Linked DNA regions of Homo sapiens. The protein of the gene in region 1 interacts with the protein of each later gene in a pairwise test. Each region holds a gene or a part of one and is shown on either strand. Other genes may lie near its edges.

The links.
Region 2: the proteins of ERGIC2 (region 1) and HSD17B2 interact in binary tests that used the Homo sapiens proteins (3 or more experiments, as listed by UniProt).

What each region holds. Positions count from the first base shown.
Region 1 is NC_000012.12:29,360,474-29,373,038, reverse strand, and holds part of ERGIC2 (endoplasmic reticulum-Golgi intermediate compartment protein 2), read left to right. Parts: intron 1-1,368; 5' UTR 1,369-1,405; coding exon 1,406-1,511; intron 1,512-2,816; coding exon 2,817-2,925; intron 2,926-4,751; coding exon 4,752-4,798; intron 4,799-6,091; coding exon 6,092-6,162; intron 6,163-11,353; coding exon 11,354-11,394; intron 11,395-12,565. UniProt on the Homo sapiens protein: Possible role in transport between endoplasmic reticulum and Golgi.
Region 2 is NC_000016.10:82,028,187-82,041,707, forward strand, and holds the start of HSD17B2 (17-beta-hydroxysteroid dehydrogenase type 2), read left to right. Parts: upstream 1-7,066; 5' UTR 7,067-7,238; coding exon 7,239-7,503; intron 7,504-13,521. UniProt on the Homo sapiens protein: Catalyzes the NAD-dependent oxidation of the highly active 17beta-hydroxysteroids, such as estradiol (E2), testosterone (T), and dihydrotestosterone (DHT), to their less active forms and thus regulates the biological potency of these steroids.

The DNA.
Region 1 (12,565 bases):
AGTCTTTTCTTATTGTATCAGTATCATGACTATTTTCTTATGTCATTAATTTTTTTTTTTTTAAATAAAAGAGTTTCAGGCCAGGTGTGGTGGTTCACATCTATAATCCCAGCACTTTTTTTGAGAGGCCGAGGTGGGTGGAAGGCTTCAGCCCAGGAGTTTGAGACCCAGCCTGGGCAACAAGGTGAAACTCCGTCTCTACAAAAAATACAAAAATTAGCTGGGGGTGGAGGTGCATGCCTATAGTCCTAGCTATTTGGGAGGCTGAGGCGAGGAGGATCGCTTGAGCCAGGGAGGCTGAGATTGTGGTGAGTTGAGATCACGCCACTGCACTCCAGCCTGGGTGACAGAGCAAGATCCTGTCTCAAAAAAAGAAAAAAAAAAGATTTTCAATGGCTACGTAAAGATGCTTCACCTTAATTTGTACATTGGATACAATGGATTTGTTTCTGTCTTCAGTATTTAAAAATAACACTGTGAGAAATATCCTCGTAATCAAATTTTGGTTAAAACCGCAGGTTATTGTCATAGGATAAATTCCTCAATGGGCATTTACTTAGAAGAGGAGTGGTGTGGTAAATGTCTTCTTCTTCTTTTTCTTCTTCTCCCTTCTCCCGCCTTTTCCCGCTTTCTCCCACCTTCTTTCTTCTTCTTCTTCTTCCATTATTATTATTATTATTATTTTTATTTTTATTTGAGATGGAGTCTCACTCTGTAACCCAGACTGCAGTGCAGTGGCATGATCTTGGCTTACTGCAACCTCCACCTTCCAGGTTCAAGCGATTCTCCTGCCTCAGCCTCCTAGGTAGCTGGGACTACAGGCACGTGCCACCACACCTGGCTAATTTTTTGTATTTTTAGTAGAGATGGGGTTTTCCCATGTTGGCCAGACTGGTTTCTCAAACTCCTGACCTCAGATGATCCACCCGCCTCGGCCTCCCAAAGTACTGGGATTACAGGCGTGAGCGACCGTGCCTGGCCTATATTCTTGTTAGTAATGTATGAGCAGGCCATTTTACTTCACTGTCATTCATTATTGGAAGTGTATTATTTTTATATAGTTTTCAATTTAATAGAAAACATTATCTTAATTTTTATATTTAGACATTATTCATGTGATTGAATTACTTTTCACTTTTTTTCTTGCTATATAATGTGTTTTTGTATTTAAATTGCCTTCCATTAGTAGTTTTTGTCAGGGCATGAATGGGGAAAGGAGTAGTGTGGATAAATACTATGCTTTTTATTTTTAAGGGGGGATGAGAATGTTAAGTTGTTTTAAGGACATTTGTCAGTTATCCTAAATTTAAAGAAACCTTTTTATCTCTTTAAAGGATTCATTTATTCATTAATTTATTTATTCCTTAGCATGACTATATGAAGGAAGAGGAAGGTTTTCCTGAAGATGAGGCGACTGAATCGGAAAAAAACTTTAAGTTTGGTAAAAGAGTTGGATGCCTTTCCGAAGGTTCCTGAGAGCTATGTAGAGACTTCAGCCAGTGGAGGTACAGGTGAGTATCAGTTAACATTAAAAGTTCTGTAGTAAGTACAACTTCTGCGTGATCCAGTCAACAACATATAGAAATGTAGCCATGAGGAAGAATTTATCAATGAATTCTGCCGTAACTTCGTAACTTGTCTGTCTTCATGCCACTCTGTTGGCTGTAATTCTTATTAATATTCTCTATAGCCTCCAACACAGTGCCATCTGTGCCTTTGGCAGTGTTTATTAAAACATTAATACATTAAACCAATGTTTCTGCTTTGCTGCCCTTTCCTAAATATGTGACCTTGAGGAAGTTATTCAAATCTATCTGTCTTAGTTTCTTCCATGAAATAGGGATCATACTAGTATTTACCTCCTAGGGGTTACTATACTATTAATATTTTCATAAAATGCTTAGACCCAGTGCCTGGTACAGATAAAAGTATCAGTTAAGTAAAATAAATAATGAAATATATAAGAAAAATGTGTGACTATAACAATATTCAGTATAATTTCTTTCCCTATGAAAAGGTAGTAAAATAATGTATTTCACTTAAGGTTGACATTTTATTTGGTAAAATGGGTAATAAGTTGCTTACTATTTCTGATCCACTTGTGATTAAGTTTTGTTAATGAAAATAGTGCAAGTTCTTGCAAAATCTATTTTAAGTATTTTGCTTTAGTATATAATAGATTTTCTTTTTGTCAGATCTTTTACTCAGTTCTGTGAATGAGGTGATATATTTAGGAGATTGCCAAGTAGAGGAGAGTTTTGTTAGCTATTTAGAGATGTTATTTGAGTTTCTGGCACACAGATTATTGTGGTTTCTCAGGATCTAAGAAATTAGGCTACCTTTTTGTTTGTTTTAAATTGGGCTTATAGCCCAATTTATATACATTTATATACAAATTATATTTATAGACATGGATGCATTTTTAATAATGAAGCAACTGTTTTCAAATTTGTGCTATAAGGCATGCTTACTTTCATCATTTATCCTATCTGTGACACTGTTTTATATAAGAAATACAAATTTTGTCAACTCTACTTAGTGAGAGATGCCCTTAAAATTGGAGAAATAAAATGCTTTCTTAGTAATGCAAGTGTTTATGTTCATATTTGTATATATTAAACCTTAACTTTTGAGCTGTATTAGAAAAAATGCATAATAAACATTTTGAATAAAAACCTTCTATAGTATGCATTCAAATGGAAGTTACATTATTAGGCTTTTTCTTTTGAAAATTTAATCTCACTTAAATTAGTTTCCTATTCTTTGCTTTTTTTATTGTTTTAATTCTGTTTTTCTTTTGTTGTTGGATTTCCCAGTTTCTCTAATAGCATTTACAACTATGGCTTTATTAACCATAATGGAATTCTCAGTATATCAAGATACATGGATGAAGTATGAATACGAAGTAGACAAGGATTTTTCTAGGTAATCATTTTTTTTCTTCTTGGAATACCTTTAGATTCAAATTGTTTTAAAAAGAGCATACCTTTTAAAAAAGAAAAAGTCTAACCTTCTAGATTTGGTTTGTTTTAGTTCTGAAGAAATAGTCCTGAAAAATTCTCATTAATTGCATGCATTAAGTGAAACCTTTTAGAATCATTTAAATAGTGGTTGAATTCTAAAACTGAGGTTCTTTGATTTAGCATGCTTTGTTTCAAAAAGTTAGGGGAATATTTTTCCTTAGATATGTATATTGTGGAAATTGTTTAATATTTGAAACTGGTTGAAATACCTCACTGATCTGTGTGAGCTGGAAAATAAGTTGTCTAAGGATACATTGTATACCCTTATGACTTGATGTCTATAAATTATACCTAAGCTAAATCTTTATGTAAATAAGATTACTTTTAAACTTTTGAAAATATAGTACCTTAATTATACACTTTACATCTATTCGTTTGTATTATTTGGATTTCTTCAATGGAATGAAGATAATAGGTTTATAATATTAAGATTGCACCAAATAGGAAGACACATTTAGTTTTCAATTACAATCCAGGTTTGCCATTTACATAATTTTAGGGAATTTACTAAATCTGCACCTGTATATGCTTCAGTTTCCTTTTTTGTAAAGTACAGACAGCAATTATAGTATCTTCCTCAAGAGGTTTATGAGAATTAAATTAGTCAACATTTGTAAATTGCTGTGTAACCTTGGGCAGGTCACACCACTGACTTCTTTTGGACTTCAGTTTCTTCATCTCTAATGTACTATTCAGGATAGTATTGGTTTTCAAAGAATTTGTTGTTGTTTTCAGCACCAATGCAATACTTCATTTTTTTCCAAATGAAGTCTTATGTATTACATAGTTCGCCACATAAGCATGGTGAGGATATGCAGAAGTTTGTCTACTTGGCCTACTCCTGGTTCCTATCTCCTGAGCCTAAACTCCTGGGTTATTTGGAACACAGTTTGAACTCTAGATGACTTTAAGACTTCATGAAGGTCTAAAAATCTGTAATTCCTATTTTAAATCAGATGAAAATTATTACACAGAAAAAAGTTATCATAGAAAGCACAGGACTGAATTTGATCATAGCCAGTCTATTATTCGCAATGCTTCATTCTGGTATTCGAAAATTGCTTTGATCTAATCATTTGAAAATGAAAGGCCATGAAAAATTTTAAGCATCAGGTGATTTACTTTTGGTAGTTTGGTTGCATTTATCCTGAGTTACATAGACCTAGTTTCCAGTATGCCACTTTAATGGTGATGTGATCTTAAGCCAGGTATTTACACTACCGTGAACACCAGTGGTTTACTTGAAAATCTGTGAAGCCATCCATTTATAGCTCCATGATATAGAATAAAGGAGATAATATTTGTAGAACATCTAGCATCATGCTTAATATATGGTGTTTGATAAACAGAGAAGAAAGACAATTCCTAATTCTTGATTTTGAGAGTTTTACATTCTTAAAAGAACATTCTATCAAAAGTTTATGTAAATAGAGATTAAGAGGTTAAGACTTTTTCTGAGTTGCTTAGAGTTATTGATTATAGAGTTGCCATTATTAAAGGATACTGTGTTCAAAAACCTGTGAAGTCAGAAAGGCTTTTGGAATAAGGGCAAAATAGAACTTGTAATTTAAAGAGCCTTTGTTTTGGCCATGAGAAATGCAATTCAAGTTCTAATCGACATAATTTATTCTGCTTGAAATCCAAGTTTTTAATAGGTCAGTTGATTTATATTTCTCATGTTTTGCTAATTAATTGGTAGGTACTAATGTTTAATATTTTGTCTTTCAGCAAATTAAGAATTAATATAGATATTACTGTTGCCATGAAGTGTCAATGTAAGTACACCTTCAACTTGCTGAATCCACATGTAGGTTATGGTTCAAACAATTGCCAAGCAAAAATAAAAATCACTGGTTGTACTTTATTTTTCCTTTATAATATTTTAAAGTTTTACTGTGGTATTATTTAATAATACAAATTGTTTTACTCCTCAGCTTATATTCTTCAAGTTTCTTTTCCATAAAGAGAAGAGATAAAACTTTCACATTAGTATAATTAAAAGAAAGTTGGAGGAAATGTTTGTGAATCAGCATTCTAGTTTATGTACATCCTTTCTGTCTTTTTTTGTTTGGAGTACTAGCTTTTATACCCATGTTTCACAAGCATATCCTTGTGTCACTGTTTCAGTTTACCACCTTTTATGTTTACTCTTGCGTTTAAAAATACAGATCCAGTTATTTTAAGTTAATGGTGATAGGTTACCCTTTTCTTTTTTCGTCACTGGACTCACTTGGTTATACTAATAGAAGTGGAAAAATGCTAATATGCCAGATAGTGAATGTTTGAATCAATACTGTTTTCAAAAATAAGAATGCTTTTGCATGAAAAATATTTTATGAGTTACTGCTTAAAAATTACAGACCAAGAACTCAGAGAAAATTTTTACATTTTTAAAAGTATGAAATAATTTTACCCAATTAATTAGAGGTTATTTTCTGTGAGATTCTATCTCAGAACGACCTTGAATCTCTTTCTTTTCAATATGTTTTTCCTTATGTTGGTGGTTTTAAGAGATAAAAAAATACTTTATTTTTAAACTTGTAGTTAGTGGTAATTCTGAATATATGATATTCTGCCTTATTTTGGATGTTTAAATACTGTTAAATTTTAGCCTTTTCCGAATAAAATTTCCTATTTGTTGATTTGTAGCATAGCTTTACGATTTCTTTTAATCTCTAAAAATATTTCTTGGAATTAATATTTTGTTCAGCAGCCACTTAGTACTTGTGATTAGGTTCTTGCCGATATTTGCAAAGCTCTTCAATTCAGTGACGCTTATCCTTTTTAAATGAGATCTTGAATTATCTTTTTTTTTTTATTGGGTAAGAAGTTTTTTACTGGGTAAGAAAAAACATTATTACATTTTGGAATAATCTCCACCTAAGCTATATAAGGCTACTGTTTTAGCTTTTGGACAAATATATCGGAAATTATTCTACATAGTTGGTGAGGTTTTTTTTTTTTTTTTGCTTGGTGAGTTTTCTGTTAGTTGGCTTAATTTGTTTATATTGGGGATGGTTTGCCTCCAAGCATAGAATGTAAAACTTCTAATTCTTTTTTCTATGCAGATGTTGGAGCGGATGTATTGGATTTAGCAGAAACAATGGTTGCATCTGCAGATGGTTTAGTTTATGAACCAGTAAGTTTGATTCACATGGTTTTTTGAAATACACGGGTTGAGGAATCGTACGCTTGAAGACAGATAGTTGCTTTTAGTTTTGTCTGAAATAGTTTTTAGTATAATTCTTTTATTTCAAAAGTAATCCATATTCTTTGTAATAAATTTAGGGGGAAAAACAGAAAAGTTATATTATATACCAAAATCTTGAGGTGACCATTATTAACATTTTGGATGTATTTTGGATGTGTCTAAAGTCTGTTTTATAACCTTTTTTAATATTTTTGTTATTACTTTCCAGTAGTTTCCTTTTCACTTTTCTTCTAGTTATAGTGATGAGTTTTTTTCTTTTTCTCTAGTAATTTGGAAACTTTTATGTCCTGTTTGTATTCTACTATGACCAAATTTAAGTATTTAAAATATTTGAACTGTATTTCTCTTACAATCAAGAATAAAGTAGTATCTTTCTAAGAGGAGAAATGTCATGGGCATTACTACTTCCTTCCTCCTTTACGCCTCTATTTCCCTCAGCGTGTGAAATGCTGACATTTTCTTATTATCTTCAGAGCACAAGTTGAATATAACATCGTAGATTTATCAGAAAATATTGTCACATTTCAGTGGCAGATACAGTGATAACGAGTCATGATCAGAACTAGCCCTAAATAAGCTTTCGAGAATAAGCATGAGGCCCTCAGCAGCTAAAAGTTGCTCTGTTGGCATGGTGGTACTTAAATTTACGCATGCGTTCTTGAGTTCCTTTTCTTAATCATTGACAATTGTGAACCTTTCTTTTAGCAAATTTGCAAAGTGAAGAGTGAAGGTGAAGGAGGGGGAGTAGAAGTGACTGAATGTATGGGGTTAAAGGAAAGAAAATGAAGTCCTTGGCCAGTTTTGATTATTGAATTAATTTTAGTTTACAGCTACAAACTTGATATGTGCCTTTTGACATATACATTTTAAATAGAAATTTCTACAGAAACAGTAACTTTTGTTATTGCCACTCTGACTCTACTTTCTGACTCGTTTTCCCACTCAAAAAATCGATTTTGAAGTAATTTTTTATGAGCTTAGTTACCTTACAGATTCATATATGACAGCATATTACACTATTATCTGCTCATTTTGATCTAAGTGATTATTATTAGATATTTTAATATTTGTATTACATTTTATACTATCTTAAGAATACTTATTTAACTTTAACTTTGTTTTTTTTTTTTTAATTTTCTGCCATTCTTACCTTATTTTTGTTTATCATTTTGAAGAGGGACTGTTTTTTCAACTTTTAGTTTAGATTCATGGAGTACATGTGAAGGTTTGTTACCTGAGTATATTGTGTAATGCTGAGGTTTTCAGGTTATGATTGATCCCATCACCCAGGTACTGGGCATAATAACTAGTAGTTTTTCAATCCTTTTCCTTCTCCCTCCCTCCCCTCTCTAATAGTCCCCACTTTCTGTTGTTGCCATTTTTATGTCTATGAGTACCCAGCGTTTAGCTCCCACTTATAAATGAGAACATATGGTGTATGGTTTTCTGTCCTGCCATTTATTTGCTTAGGATTATTGCCTCCAGCTGCATTCATGTTGCTGCAAAGGATAAAAGTTTCTTCTTTTTTATGGCTGCATAGTATTCCCTGGTGCATGTATACCACATTTTGTTTATCCCATGTACCACTGATGAGTACCTAGGTTGATTCCATGTATTCGCTATTGTGAATGGTGCTGCAATAAAGATCAGAGTGCATGTGTCTTTTGCATACAATGATTTATTTTCCTTTGAGTATATACCCAGTAATGGGATTGCTGGGTTAAATAATACTCTACGTTCTTTGAGAACTCTCCAAATTGCTTTCCACAGTGGCTGAACTAATTTCCATTTTTACCAGCAGCATATAAGTGTTCCCTTTTCTCCACAGCCTCTCCAACATCTTTTTTTTTTTTTTCTTTTTGACTTTTTAGTAATAGCCATTCTGACTGGTGTGAGATGGCCTCTCATTGTGGTTTTGATTTGCATTTCTCTTATGATTACTGATATGGAGCATTTCTTCATGTTTGTTGACCACTTGTATATCTTTTGAGAAGTGTGTGTTCATGTCCTTTGCCGACTTTTTAATGGGGTTGTTTTTTACATGTTCAATTTATTTAAATTCCTTATAGATTCTGGATATTAGACCTTTATCAGATGCATAGTTTGTGAATATTTTCTCACATTCTGTAGGTTGTCTGTTTACTCTGTTGGTAGTTTTTGTTTTTGTTTTCTGTGCAGAAGCTCTTTAGTTTAATTAGCTCCCACTTTTCAATTTTTGTTTTTGTTGCAATTGCTTGTGGGGACATAGTCATAAATTCTTTCCCAAGGGTGATGCCCACAATGGTGTTTTCTAGGTTTTCTTCTAGGATTCTTATAGTTTAAGGTCATTTAAATCTTTACCCATCTTGAGTTAATTTTTGTATATGGTGAAAGATCTGGGCCCAGTTTCATTCTTCTGCATATGGCTAGCCAGCTCTCCCAGCACCATTTATTGAATAGAGAGTCCTTTCTCCATTGCTTATTTTTGTTGATTTTGTCAAAGATCAAATGGCTGCAGGTGTGCAGCTTGATTTCTGGATTCTCCATTCTGTTGAGGGGGGACTTTTTGAGATTTATTTTACAGCAAGAATGTGTAGGTATGTTTTATGGATTCTAGCATGACTGCCTGTATCTTCTGCTATTATCTTTTATTACCCATTTTCTCTGTTGCTCTGAACTGGGAAAATCCCTTTCACATGGGTTTTTCTATCCTATGAAATAAACTTATTTTGTGCTCTTTCTCAATTTGGTTTCATTTGTATGTTGTCTTGTATAAATTCATGAAAGTTTACAGCATATGAATATTAATTTAAAATGATTTAAGATGATAATAAAGGTTGCATCCTCATTTTTATGTTTCTTTTGGATGCTGAGAATTATTGTTTATGTATTATAATCTTGAATGTATCCTCTAAAAGTCACTTACACTGTTTCTCTAGCATTCTGTCCATATTCTAACTGTTGTGGTCACTCTCTTTTTTTTTTTTTTTCACATTTATGAGATGCCTGATGCTATCTTTTTTTTTCCCCCTACATCTCTTATCTTTCTAGCTGGATTTTAAGCTCTTGAGAATCATTAATTTCATTCTTTCATCTTTGTAGTTCTCAAAATGCATTGCAAAATGCTTTGCAGATTTTAGGCAATAGTGATATGTTAGAATTAAGCAGTTGGGACAGTATTGTTGACTGTTTTCATTGTAAACAGTTTCTGCCATCTCTTCTAGTAGTTTATGGAGCAGGAAAATTTTATTTAAATTGTTATAATTAAAAATTGTATCTTAATGAGAAAGTTAAGAACTTCAAAATATTTAATTGTATACTTTTCATTAGTAATATTTAAAGTGTTTAACCATGCTTTTAGGAAACTATTCATTCCTTTGTGCTAATTTATATAAAAGTGTTTAAGAATTATTTTTAATATAAAATTATTAAAAATATCATTTTAACTTAAAAATTTTTCACTCATTATTTTAATATGCACTCTGAATATTAAAAACCTAGCCCTGATAACTTTACTAGTTTACAAGCCATGATCATACAATATGCTATGATAGTTACTATTCTGCTATTTCTATTGCATTTAGTTACTATTTAAAGACAAGAAGAATTTTTAAAAGGTGGGAAAGTAAGAAATCTGACAGAGCTGAATTTGTGTATTGGTTGTTACTTACTATCTGTGATTTTGGAAAGTTTGTAACTTTTTGAGCTCCTGCTTCCTCATGTGCAAAAAGGGAAGAGGAGTAAAAAATTCACGAGGTGGTTAGGAAGGTTAAGTGAGATAATGAATTAGCATAGGGCCTACAAAGTAGTTTCTTTATACCTTTGTGCTAAGTAAACATTGTACAAAGAAGGTTTTGGAATTCAAAGGAAAAATCATATAGTCGCCACTGTCAATCATTTTATTTATACATTAGCTGGAGAGTAACTGCCAACAGCCTTATTGGTTTGCTGTGTTGTGTTTTATAGATGTTAGCATTTTCCTTATATGCTATAATGTGAAAAAGGTTTGGTAGCATGCTTTAGGCAAATTCATCAGGAGGTGTAATCAAAGGAAACATCAGAAAGATTGGGACAATTTAACTTGAAGCATATAGTTATATAAAACTTAGACATGAGGCTCTCACAGTTACCGGAGAGGCATGTTCCAGATTGATGTAATTAAATTAAAAAATCAAATCACAGAAGTAGAGCTGTGAACTAGGACTAGTAAAGTGGATTTTTTTTTTTTTTGAAACGGAGTTTCACTTTGTGTCCCAGACTGAGTGCATTGGCAAGATCTCTGCTCACTGCAACTTCCACCTCCCGGGTTCAAGCAATTCTCGTGCTTCAGCCTCTTGAGTAGCTGGGATTACAGGTGCCTACCACCAGCTGATTTTTTGTATTTTAGTACAGACAGGGTTTTTTTGTATTTTAGTAGAGGCAGGGTTTCACCATGTTGCCCAGGCTGGTCTTGAACTCCTGAGCTCAGGCAATCCGCCTGTCTTGGCCTCCCAAAGTGTTAGAATTACAGGCTTGAGCCACCATGCCCGGCCGAAAAGTGGATTATTGTTGCAAAATTAAATTGTGGATATAGCTACTATGAGAAGTTTGCATATTTTTCTCTGACTCTGCAAGTAGCCAAGTCTAACTTTGATCATGCCTAGATAAAATTTCTTAAGTAGTTCTTTGTTGATCAATGCATTTGGGAATTAACTGTGCTATTTTTAAACTCATTTCAAAAATTGTTGATTTTATTATTGTATTTTACCAGCAAGAATTTGGGCTTTGGATGCTTGAATATAACTCTGTATTTTTGTACCCTAATACTTGTGAATTTCATGCTAGCATCATTTAAATGATTTTAAGCCCTAGGATACCATTTTGTACATATGATAAATTGTCAACTTGCATATATTCCTGTAAATGTCGATAACTGTAACAGGAAAGTATTTGTGATTAGAAAATTTCTTTATGCTATTTTTCAGTAAAGATAGCACATTAAAATTTTAATTTGACTTATAGAAGTTGAATGTAAACCATGAATACTTGTTTTTAACAACACTTAAGTTTATGTTTCCTGCTCAAAGAAAAAATTTTAAATTATGATGTAAAAGCCAAGAGAATTTGACAATGCTAGTGATTATGTTTTCTTTCATTTCAGACAGTATTTGATCTTTCACCACAGCAGAAAGAGTGGCAGAGGTAATAAGAGAACAAAGTATTGTGGTCCATAGAAATCTAAGTCATATTTTGTCTATTGTAAACTATTTATAGATTAACACATTTCTCTAGGGATTTCTTTGGATGAATTCTTAGCAGAATTTGGTATATAATATAATCCTTACAATTTCAAAAACCATCAGATCTTAAGAAAGTCATGCATAATCTTTTCTCTGGTAAACTTTGATTCATAAGTTTTAGTTTTTATTTAAAATGGTATCAACTATTTACATTTTTTGATTACAAAAGTAATATATGATCATTTTAAAAATTCAATTTGAATAGAAATGATATAAAGCAAGATTGTCCAGACTGCGGCCCCACAGGAAGGCTTTGAATGTAGCTTAACACAAATTTGTAAACTTCTTTTTTTTTTGAGACAGAGTCTCACTCTGTTGCCAGGCTGGAGTACAGTGGCGCAATCTTGGCTCACTGCAACCCCCACCTCACAGGTTGAAGCGATTCTCCTGCCTCAGCCTCCTGAGTAGCTGGCGCACACTACAGGCACACACCACCATGCCCAGCTAATTTTTTGTATTTTTAGTAGAGATAGGGTTTCACCATGTTGACTAGGCTGGTCTTGAACTCCTGAACTGAAGTGATCCGCCCATGTTGGCCTCCCAGAGGGCTGGGATTACAGGCATGAGCCACTGTGCCCGGCCACAAATTTGTAAACTTTCTGAAAAAGTTATGAGATTTTTTTGTGATTTTCTTTTTTTTTTAACTGATCAGCTATAGTTAGTGTGTTTTATGTGTGGCCCAAGATAATTCTTCTTACAGTGTGGCCCAGGGAAGCCAAAAGATTGGGCACCCAGATACAAAGTAAATGTAAAAGCCCCCTTCTCTTTCTGTAAACTAATGCCACTGACTAGCAGTAATAACCAGTGATAAGTTTCTTGGGTAGCCTTCTAGACAGACATTTTCTGTGTATGTATATAATATGTATATTATATATATTTCTGTGTATATATATACAAAATTATGATAATTCTTACATATAATCTATATAATATATAGTACATAATTGTATATATAGTTCTTGTATATCATATATGAGTATATTATATATTTATAATATATAAAAGTTTATATATTCATTATATATTTTATAATATATCATATTTATATATTTTTATAATGTGTTATATTTAAA
Region 2 (13,521 bases), on another chromosome or scaffold:
CTTAGCAGCTGGGCTTGAGAGCTGTAATGGAGCAAGGAGGGAACCCACATCGGCCTTCAACAGCCTTCCTCTGGTCCAGCAGCTGTGAGCAGGCCTACTTGTTGGAAGTGGACTGACTGGTTGACTCGCTGGCAGTGCATGTGCACAAACACATACACACGTGCACACACAGACACCTACACACAGATACAGAGAGATACACATACACATCTACATATATACACACATGCAAACACACATATATACCCACACAGATACAGAGATACATGTATATATCTACATATATACACACAAGCACACACATACCTACACACAGATACAGAGAGATACACATACACATCTAGGTATATACACACATGCACATACATACGTATACCTACCCTCAGATACAAAGAGATGCATGTACACAGCTAAATATACACACACATGCACACACATACCTACACACAGATACAGAGAGATACACATTTATGTATATACACACATGCATACACACATATATACCTACACATAGATACAGAGGTATATATATATATATATACACACATTCACGTCTACATATATACACATGTACATACACACATATACCTACACACAGATACAGAGATGTACACATCTATATATATATATACACACATGCACATACACACATATACTTACACACAGATACAGAGATGTACCCATCTATATATATACACACATGCACATACACACATATACCTACACACAGATACAGAGATGTACCCATCTACATATATACACACATACACATATACACATATACCTACCCACAGATACAGAGATGTACACATCTATATATACATAGACACATGGACATACACACATGTACCTAAGCACAGAGAGATACATGTACACATCTACATGTATATTCACATACACACATATACCTACACACAGAGATATACACATCTACTTATGTACACATATGCACACACATACATATACTGACACAGATACAGAGATAGACACTTCTACTTATGCATACACACTTGCACATACATACACATATATTCACTCAAAGACACACACGAATATACAGATATACCTGCACACATGCACATCCACGCACCTATGCATGTGTGCACTTGTACAACACCCTTACACATATCTACACATGCATGTGCACACACACATATACACACACATGAATGGAGACACCCCCACACGCTTCCCACATCCGCCCCATACCCCATACGTACACTCACAGACACAGACACACAACTCTACACACATGTGTACATAAACATACATGTACGCATGTACACACATACACGAATACCCACATACCTACATATGGATATACGTACCCTCACTTACACACACACAGACACAGGCACACCTACACACACGTACACCTGTGCACAAGCACACACATACAGGTTTATACACATATACATGCCCCCAGAAAGACAGATACACACACACACACACACACACACACACACACACACACACCACTCTGCAAATAGCCTGGTTACATACCAAGTTGTGATGTGAATTTCCATCTGACCTCACACTGAGGCATTTGTCACAATTCATAAACCAATACTGATACATTAGTATTTTTATTTTTATTATTTTATTTTATTTTATTATTTTTTGAGATGGGGTGTCGCTCTGTCACCCAGGCTGGAGTGCAGTGGTGCGATCTCGGCTCACTGCAAGCTCCGCCTCCCAGGTTCATGCCATTCTCCTGCCTCAGCTTCCCGAGTAGCTGGGACTATAGGCGCCCGCCACCACGCCTGGCTAATTTTTTGTAATTTTAGTGGAGATGTGGTTTCACCATGTTAGCTAGGATGATCTCGATCTCCTGATCTCGTGATATGCCCACCTCGGCCTCCCAAAGTGCTGGGATTACAGGCATGAGCCACTGTGCCCGGCCAATACATTATTATTAACTGAAGTCTATACTGTATTCAGATTTCCTTGGTTTTTACCTCATGTCTCTTTTCTGTCTCAGGTTTCCACATTACATTTAGTCGTCACGTCTCCTTGGGCTTCTTTTTGCTGTGACTGTTTCTCAGAATTTCCTTGTTTTTTGATGGCCTTGACCCAATACTTGCTGGGTATTTCATAGAATGTTCTGCAATGATAAAGTTGCCTTTTTTTTTTTAAATCACATCATACTATCAACATGATTTGCCATTGTTGGTGCTGACCCTCACTACCTGGGTAGTGTTCGTCTGGTTTCTACGTGGTAACGTTGCTCTGTTTCTCTGTTTTCATGCTGCACTCTGGAAGAAAGTTACCATGTGTAGTTCACACTTAATGGGGAGTTACACTCCAAGTCCTTGAGGTAAGGAGTATTTATGTCCATTATTTATAATTCTTCAGCATGTGAGATTTGTCTCTTCTCATCCACCTAGCTGATAATGTATTTATATCACTATGGAGGAATGGGTATTTATTTATATTTTGGATAATTTCTCCTCATGTGTATGATATTTTACTATAAAAAGTTAAAAGTGACGCAGAAACTATAAAAACGAATTTTATTTGATAACAAACACCGTGGTAGTCAAGAATAGGGCACTTTTGTTAAAAGAGCAAATAAGTCTTTGGACACATAAGCAAAAATAAAGCTTCAAGGATAGGGGAGGTGATAATCTTACTCTATTCTATGTTCTTTGCACTGTACTGAAAATATTGTGCCCAGTTCTGGGCCTAATCTTTCAGGGGAGATGTAAGTAATTGGATGCCATTCTGAGAAGTGGCTGCAGATCCCTGAAACCCTATACAAAAAAAAAAAAAAATGAGATCTGACTTACTTGGAATTTATGATAATTGAGGAGTTTAGACATCTTTACCACGTATTATTTCAAAGATAGAAAAAAGGCATGGTCCAGCCCCAAGTTCTGGCTATCTTCTCCTAGTCTCCCCACTCCTGCCCACTGTATAAAATAGATAAATATGTAATACATGATATTTGCGCAATCACAAACACTCCAAACATTAGTTATCACCCTAATGCTCAAAAAGCAACAAACGAACAAAAAACTCGTATTACCAACAAGATCTCTGTGATGTCCCTGAGATGATCTGTTATGGCTGGTACCACCCTGTCCATGTCCTGAACTTTGGGTCACTATGACATCAACACACAGTCATTCTCTGCTTGGCAAATCATGCCGTCATTATGTTACCCTCATCATAGGAAAATGTTCTTCAATTATTGTAACAATGTGATTTTAAAAATGTTTGAGCTCTGAAATATCTTTCAAATATCTGAAAGAAATAGAACAAGACATCCTCTGACTCCACGTGGAGTGGGAAGACAAACGTCAAGATGAATTTGACCTAGAGGAGAATGTTCTAATATCCCGAGCCATCTTGAATGGGAAAATCAGCCTTCAGAGGAAGTGAAGTGCCTGTTCTCAGAGATGTTCTGGCAATAGACAAGATGACCACTTGGTGGGGATGTTACAGAGGGAATTCCCATTTTAGATGGGAAGTTCCTTCTTCAAGTTCTCTTCTAAACTCAACATCCACCAATTCTAAGAAAGTGTACATTGGAGGATTCTCAGCATTTTTTTTTCCCCAGCATTTTTTGCCCAGCAATTTTTTTTGGGGGGGCGGCAATCCTTTCTTTTGGGTAGGATGTTTTGTTTTCAGATGGCATTTTCCAAAAGGCCCCTCTGCTGGCAGGAGGAAATGACACATTGACCCACTGGCGTCATTAGCAAGAATGAGTTGGTCCAATTGGCTCCTTTTCCCTGGAAGGCTGAGAGCAAGCCTGCAAGCAAGGGGACACTGGCCAAGCCATGATGGCCTCGAGAATAGCTTCACGACAAAATGGTGGGGACAAACAAGGGACACGATTTAGCTCAATAGGATGCAGGAAATCTTCATTCAGCGGTAGCTCTGAGATGGACTGACCCTGAGGTTGGGATGAGGACATTCAGGGCTTAGAAAGGATTGGGCTAGTTCTCACCTGGGGATTCTGCAATTCCATATATTCCCCAACTGGTAAATAGCCTTCCTTTCCACCACCGTGCACCCCCACTAGTCTCTGCTCCTGCAGCAGGCCTCCTGGAAGCACTGCGTCCTCAACTCTGCAAGGCCAGGAACCGGGTCTATATTGTTCACTACTGAATTCCTCCATGGCTGGTGCAGAACTGGCCACCTAGAAGACTCTCAATAGAGATGTGATTCTTCCTATATTTTTCCAACAAATATTAATTATGTACATGTGATGTGCCAGGCACTGGACTGTGCACGTGGTGAACAGTAAAGGAAAAACAATAAACAGATAAGGTTCCTGCCCTCATGAAGTTTATGGTCTAGTAGGGGAGACAGAAAACGTTCTTAAACTGATCAAAGTAAATATATAATTGTGGATTGAGCTAAGCGCAACAAAGGCAATGAATAAAGCGTGCTGATAGGAGATACTCAGATTGGGTGACAGGAGGTGATGTTTAAGCAGATATCTGAAGGATGACAAAGGAAACAGCCGAGTGCTGAACTGAAAGAAGAAATAAATGAGTGAGGAGGTAGCTGTCAAGAACCTCTCTCTCTGCTCAGAGGAAAAAGGCTAAGAGGCAGTGGGTACTCTCAACAATGAGAAAAGTGCCTACCATCCATGAGTGCCTGTAAGTGCCAGGGACGATGCAAGAATGGTGTCATTCACTTTTCAAAACAGCCCTTGGAAGAAAGACTCCTCCTACCGCCAATTTACAGAAGAGGAAACTGAGGCTTAGGAAGGGCAGGTAACTTGCCCAGTGCCTCACAGCTAAGCCAGGATTCGAACTCAATTTAGAAGTCTGTGAGACCCGAAAGCTCATGTTCTTAATACTGTTCAGCCCCTTCACCATCAGGGCTCAGGGAGTATCCTTCATGGGACTTCTGTGTGGCCTGAGGGTGGCTTTTGCTCATAGATTTTACCCTCCCCTTGGGAGCCCCAGGACAGAGTAGGTCTGGGAACTCGCAAGGGCTGCCTCCAGGAGAAAAGCCACCTCTCTCAAGTGGGCGTGCACTTGGCAGGAAGCCTGCGCAGGTGTTTGGCTCAGCCCAAATGTGGGAGCCACTGACCAAATGCCAAGACTCTCAGCGAAGAGCCATAGCTAGTCCTGTCTCCCCACCTGGAAGCTGTTTTTCGAACGGAGCTAACTGCCAGGATGCTCTGGGCTGGTGAGGCCACAAGGATTGTGAGAGGTGCCCTGTGGCTCAGATGGCACCCAGGAAGGAATTGGGGTCTGTTGAGGGAGGGAGAGTTCAGGGCTAGCCAAAGGCAATTCCAGATCCCTGCCCCTAAGCTTCCTGGCCTGGAGCTGGTAACGTCTCCCTGACTCAAATGTCCATGTGGCTGGGAGGGCAGACAACAGTTGCCATCACTCCACGCAGACCCTCATAACTGCCTTGTTGTCCAACCCCACAGTCCCACAGCACAGTAATGGTTCACAAGACACTGCTTCCCACCCCTTCTCCCTTGGGTCTTGAGTTGGCTTTGAGCCCAGGTGGGCTCTGCCTCACCTCCCTTTACAGGGGATACGCTGCTGGGTCCCTTCCTTCCCGAGTCCTGCCTCCCCAACATCATCCACAAAAGGCATCCTCTCCCTTCCTCCTCCTGCCCCTCATTTAACTCCAGCACGTGTTTTGAGACAAGTCTATACTCCACTGGACACTTTGTTTTACACGACTTCCTCTTATTCTTCATTCTCCTCCTGTTTAAAAAACATGAATCACTAGCATTTATGAGGTTCCTTCTACTGTTCCAGGCAGGATATGATATTATTTTATAGCCAAAGGGATGAAGATCTAGGGAGGTGAAGTGACCCTCCCAAGACTATGTAATTAATAAGTAGTGGAGTTAAGATTAGATTTGAATAGAGGGAAACTGACCTCAAATAGAGAATGTTTCTCTCTAGCTATGCCAAAGTCCAGCCTTTATCACAACCTTGCCTCCCTCCAGCCAGGCATGTGGCCCACATGGGGCACGCCCTGAGCCCAGGTGCGGTGACCCCTCTCTGGCTTAGCACGGTTAGGTGGTGCTGTAGTTGCAGAGTGCTGGCTTTTAAGCCGCTTGTGAGTAAGGGATTTATTTTTTCCCAGCCTCAGTTTTTCTCTCTGTAAACTGACCATAATAATAACACCCACCTCAAACAGTTTTATAAGGTTGAAATGGGGTGAAAGTAGGAAAGATCTAGCACATAATGCACTAATTTTTTTTTTTTTTTTTGCCTAAAGCAGGCAGTGGAATAGAATGCTTAGGGGCATACAGCTCTGAGATCAGGCTGCAAGACTCCACTGCTGTGTGATCTTGACTAAGTCTCTTACCCTCTCTGTGTCCTGGTTTCCTCACCTGTAAAATTACTATAATACTAGAATCAACTTCATAAGGATATTGTATTCAAGGAGGATGAGAGGAGTCCCAGTGAATGGAGGCTGGCATAGAATAGGCTTACAATAAAGAGAAAGAACAAATAAGCAGCTATACACAGCCTCTGCCACAAAAAACTACCAATAGATATTAGCCGCTATTAGTTAATTGTCATTATTATCTCTCCCTGGCATGTTTCCACTCAGGCAAGACCAAAGCACTTTCCTCTACCAAGGAATATCTTCCTCTACTTTCATATCCCTCTCCATCCAACCCTTCAGCCTGCCTCAGTTGGGATTTGTAGGAGTCCTGAAGCTATGGACCAGATCAGAGGTGCCTTCCCTTCCAGAATCTATTTTCCAAACTTCATCGATTGCCTATATTTATATGCATGCATGCACACACACGCACACACACACACACACTCTCACTCACTCCCGAGTCAGAAAAAGGACTCAGCACCCAGACATACTGCAGGCTCTTGAAGAAGACAGTATTTTCCTGTGAGCTAGAGGATCTTCCTGTTATTCTCCATGCAGTTCAAATTCTGTCAATTATTATCCAGTTAGTCATCGCTCCAGAGGTGGACTGTCATTAAAAAAAAATAGAAGGTGTGTGTTTGTGGGTGAGTATGTGCATGTGTTGTGTATGCAGGGGGTGGGGAGGGGCGAGAGCGGTCAAATAGGAAGTGCCTTGGTATTTATGTTGAAGTGCACACTGGTTTAAATTACCCACTGGGAATATGATTATGCTTAATCTATGCTCAGTTGAAAGGGGCTGGGGCTGCTTTCTCCCCTCCCTTCTTGACTCTCTGTTCACAGAACTCAGGCTGCCTCCAGCCAGCCTTTGCCCGCTAGACTCACTGGCCCTGAGCACTTGAAGGTGCAGCAAGTCACTGAGAATGAGCACTTTCTTCTCGGACACAGCATGGATCTGCCTGGCTGTCCCCACAGTACTATGTGGGACAGTATTTTGCAAATACAAGAAGAGCTCAGGGCAGCTGTGGAGCTGGATGGTCTGCCTGGCAGGCCTCTGTGCAGTCTGCCTGCTCATCCTGTCCCCTTTTTGGGGCTTGATCCTCTTCTCGGTGTCATGCTTCCTCATGTATACTTACTTATCTGGCCAAGAATTGTTACCTGTGGATCAGAAGGCAGTCCTGGTGACAGGTAAGCAGACGGTGCTACAATTTTCACTGAGGGTATGATCTGAAACTTGCTTTGCCTTAGCAGGACTTTGTCAAATCTGGCTTAAAAATAAAATACTTGGCATGGAGTAAATGAAAGCCCTCACCCAAGTATTTTTCATGACACTGTTTTCGTTCCGTTTTTTCCAGGAGGTGCATTTGAAGGGGCTGGTAGTGGGAGGGAAGGAGAGGATGAAGTGCACCCAGACAATGATTTTGTTAAAATTTCCCAGGAATAAATATTAATAGGCAAAATGGCAATATTTCATGTGTTCTATTGTACCCAGGAATGTCCCATAGATTGTTTTTTAGGCTTAAATGGACTTTTGTTCTGACATCATTGTTTGGCCAGGTTCTCCACCTGGACTCTTCTTCCCTAGGTATGCAAGAACGCTTACAAGCCAAGTTCTACTTGTCCCTTGCTGTTTTGAAATATTGAAGGGATTCACTTACCTGGGCTGGAGACTTTGCAGTTTGCTTGGCTGCTGTCAAGAACCTTGTGTCCTGTCTGAACTGTTCCTCATTAGACCTCTAATGTTTCTTAATTGGACCAACTTGGCATCGTGTCCAACATTCAGTTGCCTGTTAGCTGAGCTGCCAGTTTTTCCCTTGTTTGTGTGTGTGTGTGTGTGTGTGTGTGTGTGTGTGTGTGTGTGTTTCCCCATTGCAAGTGTGAGGCCAAATTAAATTTCTTTGAGTTGTAAAATTTTTGCTTGGTTATGGAGTTTAAGCTTGGATAGGGCTGTAATTAGGATTATCCAGCGTTATCCTAACCCAGAAAGCCCTACCAAATAAAAAAAAAATCAGCTGTGGAATCATTTGGGGGAGATCATCACCCCTCTGACCATGATCCTCAGGGTGAAGGCAAGAATGGCATGGGGATGTGGTTGGGAGAAAATCTGGGGCTTGACAATTTGCAGAGAAACAGACTTTGTTTTTGGGTTAAAGTAAAATGCTTTCTTGAAACAAAATGCAAATTGGTGCTTGTTGGGGTTAGACAAGCCACAGAAAAGAAGCTTCTTTAAATTAATTTTTGAAAGTTTAGAGGGAGAAAATTCAGTCAATGGGATGTTTATCTGCAAGAATGTCTGATATCACCTGGAATCATGTATCTGGGAGTCTGGCTGGATTTTCCACTTTTTTATTAGAATTCTCAAATGGCTTATCGGTGAAATTTGTAAGAGAGTCTCAATTTTCCTGTTCTGTGTCCTGTTCTGTTATGAAACCTTAGGATGAGCTCAGGCAAACCACAGGGTAGCTGAGAAAATGGGAATCCCTTCTTGCTTGTTTATTTTGTCAACATTCTTTATCCTCTGCATTTCAAGATGCAGGTGTTAATTAATGCTCACAAAATATGCACCCAACTCAGTGAGCCCACATCAGCCACTGAAAGGTGCCGTGCATTTAGTGTTGAGTGAGGATGATTGAATCAATTAGGCAACTCAAGCTCAAGGACTAATCCCTGCATGAAATGCTTATGGCAATGAAGAAAGCTTAGAATTAAGATGAGCACTACATATATTTAAGGATGACTGAAATGTCACTTTCACGTTCTTTGTTATTTTCAAGTTCTCTGTCATTTTTATGAGGAATGCTATGTGCTCATATCATCCTAGACAAGGCCTCAAGACCTTTGTATGAAATCGAGAAATTTAAAATGAATTCATTTTGTTAGACCACAACTCTTTAAAGAATGAAGAAGCCACGCTGAGTTTGGAATAACCTTTGTTCCAGATTGGCTTATGATAACATAGATTAGCACGCATTGTGGTGGGGCAGGACCAAAGAAAAATGTGGCAGTGTACATCAAAACCATACATATGGTTCCTTTATCTGATAATTCAAGTCTTGGAAATTTATTTTGAAGACATAATCTGAAATATGAAAAAAAGAGTAGAAGCAAAACCAAAATGGCACATTCAACACAATCTTATTATTTAATTTAGATTAATATTAAATATCAAAAGCAACAAAAAGGGTGATAATATATGGTACATCCTCTGGGTATAACAATGTGCAACCATTAAAAATGACAGCCACAAGGACTGTGTTACATGGAAAACTGCTTGGGCCAAAGGAAAACACACAGGAAATCCCAGGGTTGGAACAAGTCTACAGCCACGTCAAATGCATAGATTCCTGGGCTGGGCAAAAAGCTGTGATAACAGCTGGAAGAAATAGTTTGTATATGGTTGGATTAGTGTGCTGGAAATAGTTTGTAAATGAAAGGAAATAGTTTATAAAGGAAATAGTTGGTTAATGGTTGGATTAGACTATTTACGTGTTATTTTCTCTCCTGGATTTCAAATTTCTCTGGTGTGATTACATTACTCATACAATAAAAATACTTAAAAGAGAACACAAAACAGCTAAAGCTCCTTTTAGTTTGTATTTAATTTTGGACCCAGGTGAGAGGCAATTACAAAGACAAATTTAAAAAAATGACTTTTTTCTCCCCTTTGAGCCCTTTATTTCATTTTGCTAAGATGTTCAAAAGTCTGTTGCCTCAGAGACAATATAATTACAGTAAGAAAAAGTAAGCAAGCATAGAGTGTTTGAATACATATTTGTCTTCAAGATACCTGAAACCACAGAGGCCATTCAAATATTTAAAATGTATGTGTGATGCATTTTATTTTATTTTATTTCATTTTATTTTTTGAGATGGGGTCTCAATCTGTTGCCCAGGCTGGAGTGCAGTGGCATGATCTCAGCTCACTGCAACCTCTGCCTCCCGGGTTCAAGTGATTCTCCTGCCTCAGCCTCTCAAGTAGCTGGGATTACAGGCACGTGCTACCACGTTGGGCTAATTTTTGTATTTTTAGTAGAGACAGGGTTGTATGATGCATTTTAAATGTATAACTGTAAAATGAACAAAGAGCAGACCAACACGATTGTAATAACATCTCAACCACAACATAGTGGGAAAAAACTTTGAAGACACACAGGCTTGGGTTTGAATCCTGCATCTACCTTGCCTTAGGCTAGGTCCCCAGAGGCAGTGCTTTCTGTGAGGATTTGTGGGAAAGATTTATTAGGAGGGTTTCCAGAGAAGATGGGCAGGGAAAAGGAAGAAGCCAGGTAAGGGTGAGACATTGAGAAGTCCTCTGAAGATCACTTGGGCTTGATCACCCTGGGCGGACGTGGGGTGGTGTGGATCACTCATCAGAGCTGTGCCAATTGGAGACTAGAGAGCTGTAGTCTTTATGCCTTCACACCAGTCAATCATTAGTTAAGGGCAGTCACCCCTGTTCCCCCTTGGTTGTGGGCAGGAGGGGAGACTTAATTCCATGCACTTCTGGCACCATGTGGACACTGGCTGGCAAAGTGGGTTCTGGTCCTTTGGGGAAAGAATCGCAGGTGCTGGCTGCTGGGAGTCAAAGTGCACCATGGATTGATGCACACAACAGTGGGAGGGTTCTGGGGGAATAGCATCTTATTTGCTGCATCTTTATTACTAGCTGTGTGGACAGCTGTGTAAACTTTGGTGCTCGGTTTTGGATTTTGGGACTCTGTTTTCTCCTCTGTAAATGGAAAATAATACACACACACACACACACACACACGCACAAACACACACACACCCCTGCATATGTTATACTACTATAGATGGAGTTAGCAGATGAGAGAGAGAGAGAGAGAGAGGGAGAGAGAGAGAGAGAGAGAATGACTGTATTGGGGTGGTGAGGGGAAAGCTTGAGTAGTTAGGAAGAACATGAAGGAACAAAAAGAACAAAAGAAAACGTTGACAAACAGAGAGAAGAAGCATTCATGTATTCACTCAATAAATATTCATTGAGGGCCCAGTATGTGCCATGCATTTTCCAGAAGCAAAGGGGGAAGAAAATTTTAAGACCAGGAAATTACTGTCAAGCGATGGGATCAAAATTCCTACTTTTCCTTCATCTTGGACACACATTCACTGGAGTTCCTTCCCCCTCTTCTGAGGTTACACGTTGTCCTTCTCAGCCTACCCTCTAAGCTTGGCAGGAGATGCACAGGTAACTTTAAGTTTCTATCCTCTGGCCTTTCATCCTGCCCCCTCCAGTCATCTCAAATATTGAGAACCGACTCAGCATCTACTGTGTACAGAGCAGACACCTCAGGGCTTCATGGACCACTGGGGAAGACACGGCCACACCCAACTGTGGCTGTGTGATGGGGCACATAAGAAACCTCCAGGTTCATTCCCAAAGCGGATCCCAGGCAGACACAGGTCTTGTGTGTGGAGCTGGGGAAAGCTTGACAAAAAAAGAGGGACCTCGTTAAGAATCTAAAATTAGTTTTCTAGGGGGAAAGTGAGAAGGTATTCCAGCCTAATTGGTTAAGTAGCTACAACAAATACAGCTAGCACTCAATAAGGCTTGCTGCATTAGATAATTTTTAATTGAAAATTTCAAAACTGGATATATTGGAGAACGGATCCAGGAGGAGAAGTAAGATCTGTTTTCAGTGAAAATATTTTATGCTCACAAGAAAGTGTCTCACGTGAGTGATCATCCCTTCTTGCAATTACTGAACAGTCCAAATAAGGTTCTCAAGTTGAATACCATGGGTATCATCTTGGGGTTTGGACTCCTTTGGATTTCACGTTAGATTATTAAGATGGATAAACATTGACAGTGGACTAAGAGACTAAGAGAAATAACATCTCTGTGCTCTAACCTTTACATGCATTTTATATTTGATTCTCACAACCCTAATAATTCACATTTGTAAACAAGGAAATGCGTCCAAAGTCACTGAGCTACTAAGTAGCCAAGATTGGACTAAACCCAGATCAGATCCATCTCTCACCAAAAGCCATCCTCTTAACCACTGTCATTAGAAGTGTTAGATCCATAGTTGGTATTAGACCACAAAGGTTACCCAGGATATAAAACGTGTCCATTCAATCAACAAGTAAATATTGAACATCTGTTATGTGCCCATGACTCTGCTTAATACAGAGCTTGGCAATTGATTGGGTGTAGAAGATGCTTATGAGGGATGATGAAATAAGAGTACCATACACAGGGCTAGGGATGTTTGCAGAGGGTGATGATTTGAGACATGCCATGTGCTAAGCTTGACTTCAGAACTGAGTCTGAGAGCAGTGAAGGGTAGTTCAAGTGAAGTGTCACTGGAAATTGGAAATAATGAAATAGAACTTGGTTAGATTTGTAGATAGATGCTGGAGAAGCATGAGCAACAAAGTGATGGTGGATGTTGAAAGGATGGCCCTTAGTGAGTCTATAATTCAGTCTACCAGATGATTTTTACATGAACAAATGTCCCCACTTATCATGCGGTTTAAGTTTTACCTTTACCTACTACAGGGAAGCATAAAAAAGGTTTTGATAACCCGGGTAATTTTGTGAAAGTTTGAACAATGATTGTATCAGGCATTATAGATGGAGTGTTTTGACTGGGGAGTATTCTGACTGCATGGAAATCCATGCCAACTATACTGCAAGCGGCTTGAAGGCAGGAACCAGGTCTCTTTTTATGACCATGTGCCTCTTCTCAGTCTCTCAGCACGTTAGGCCTAACACAGTGTTAATGAGCGAATGCACAGTGAGTGAACCAACCATGTGGGTGAAACGTCCTCTCCTTTTCATGGTCGTTAGTTGGACACAATAGGATTGTCCCAATCTGCCCACTCACTTAGGTACTTACCTTTGCTGTTCTTTTTGCTGGGGTCATTTGCATAAAAAGGGCAGAGTGACATGGCTGAGCTGTTGGAAGCTCCATTGTTCTGTAGTGACTTAATTGTTGGCTTGCCCTGGACAAGGCTTTATGCTGATTTGGTTCTAAGCGTGCTCCTGCTTACCCAGGATGTGGCACAAATAGAACATCCACTGGCTTCCACCAGTCTGCTGAAACTGCTCTCTAAGTGTCACTGGTGTCCTTCTAATCACCAGAGCTTGACTTCTGCTCCAGCACTGCCGACCATACTTTCTTTCTTTTCATGGCCTCGTTAGCCTTGCAGGAACTGCATTTCCATGCTTCTTTGTCCTTT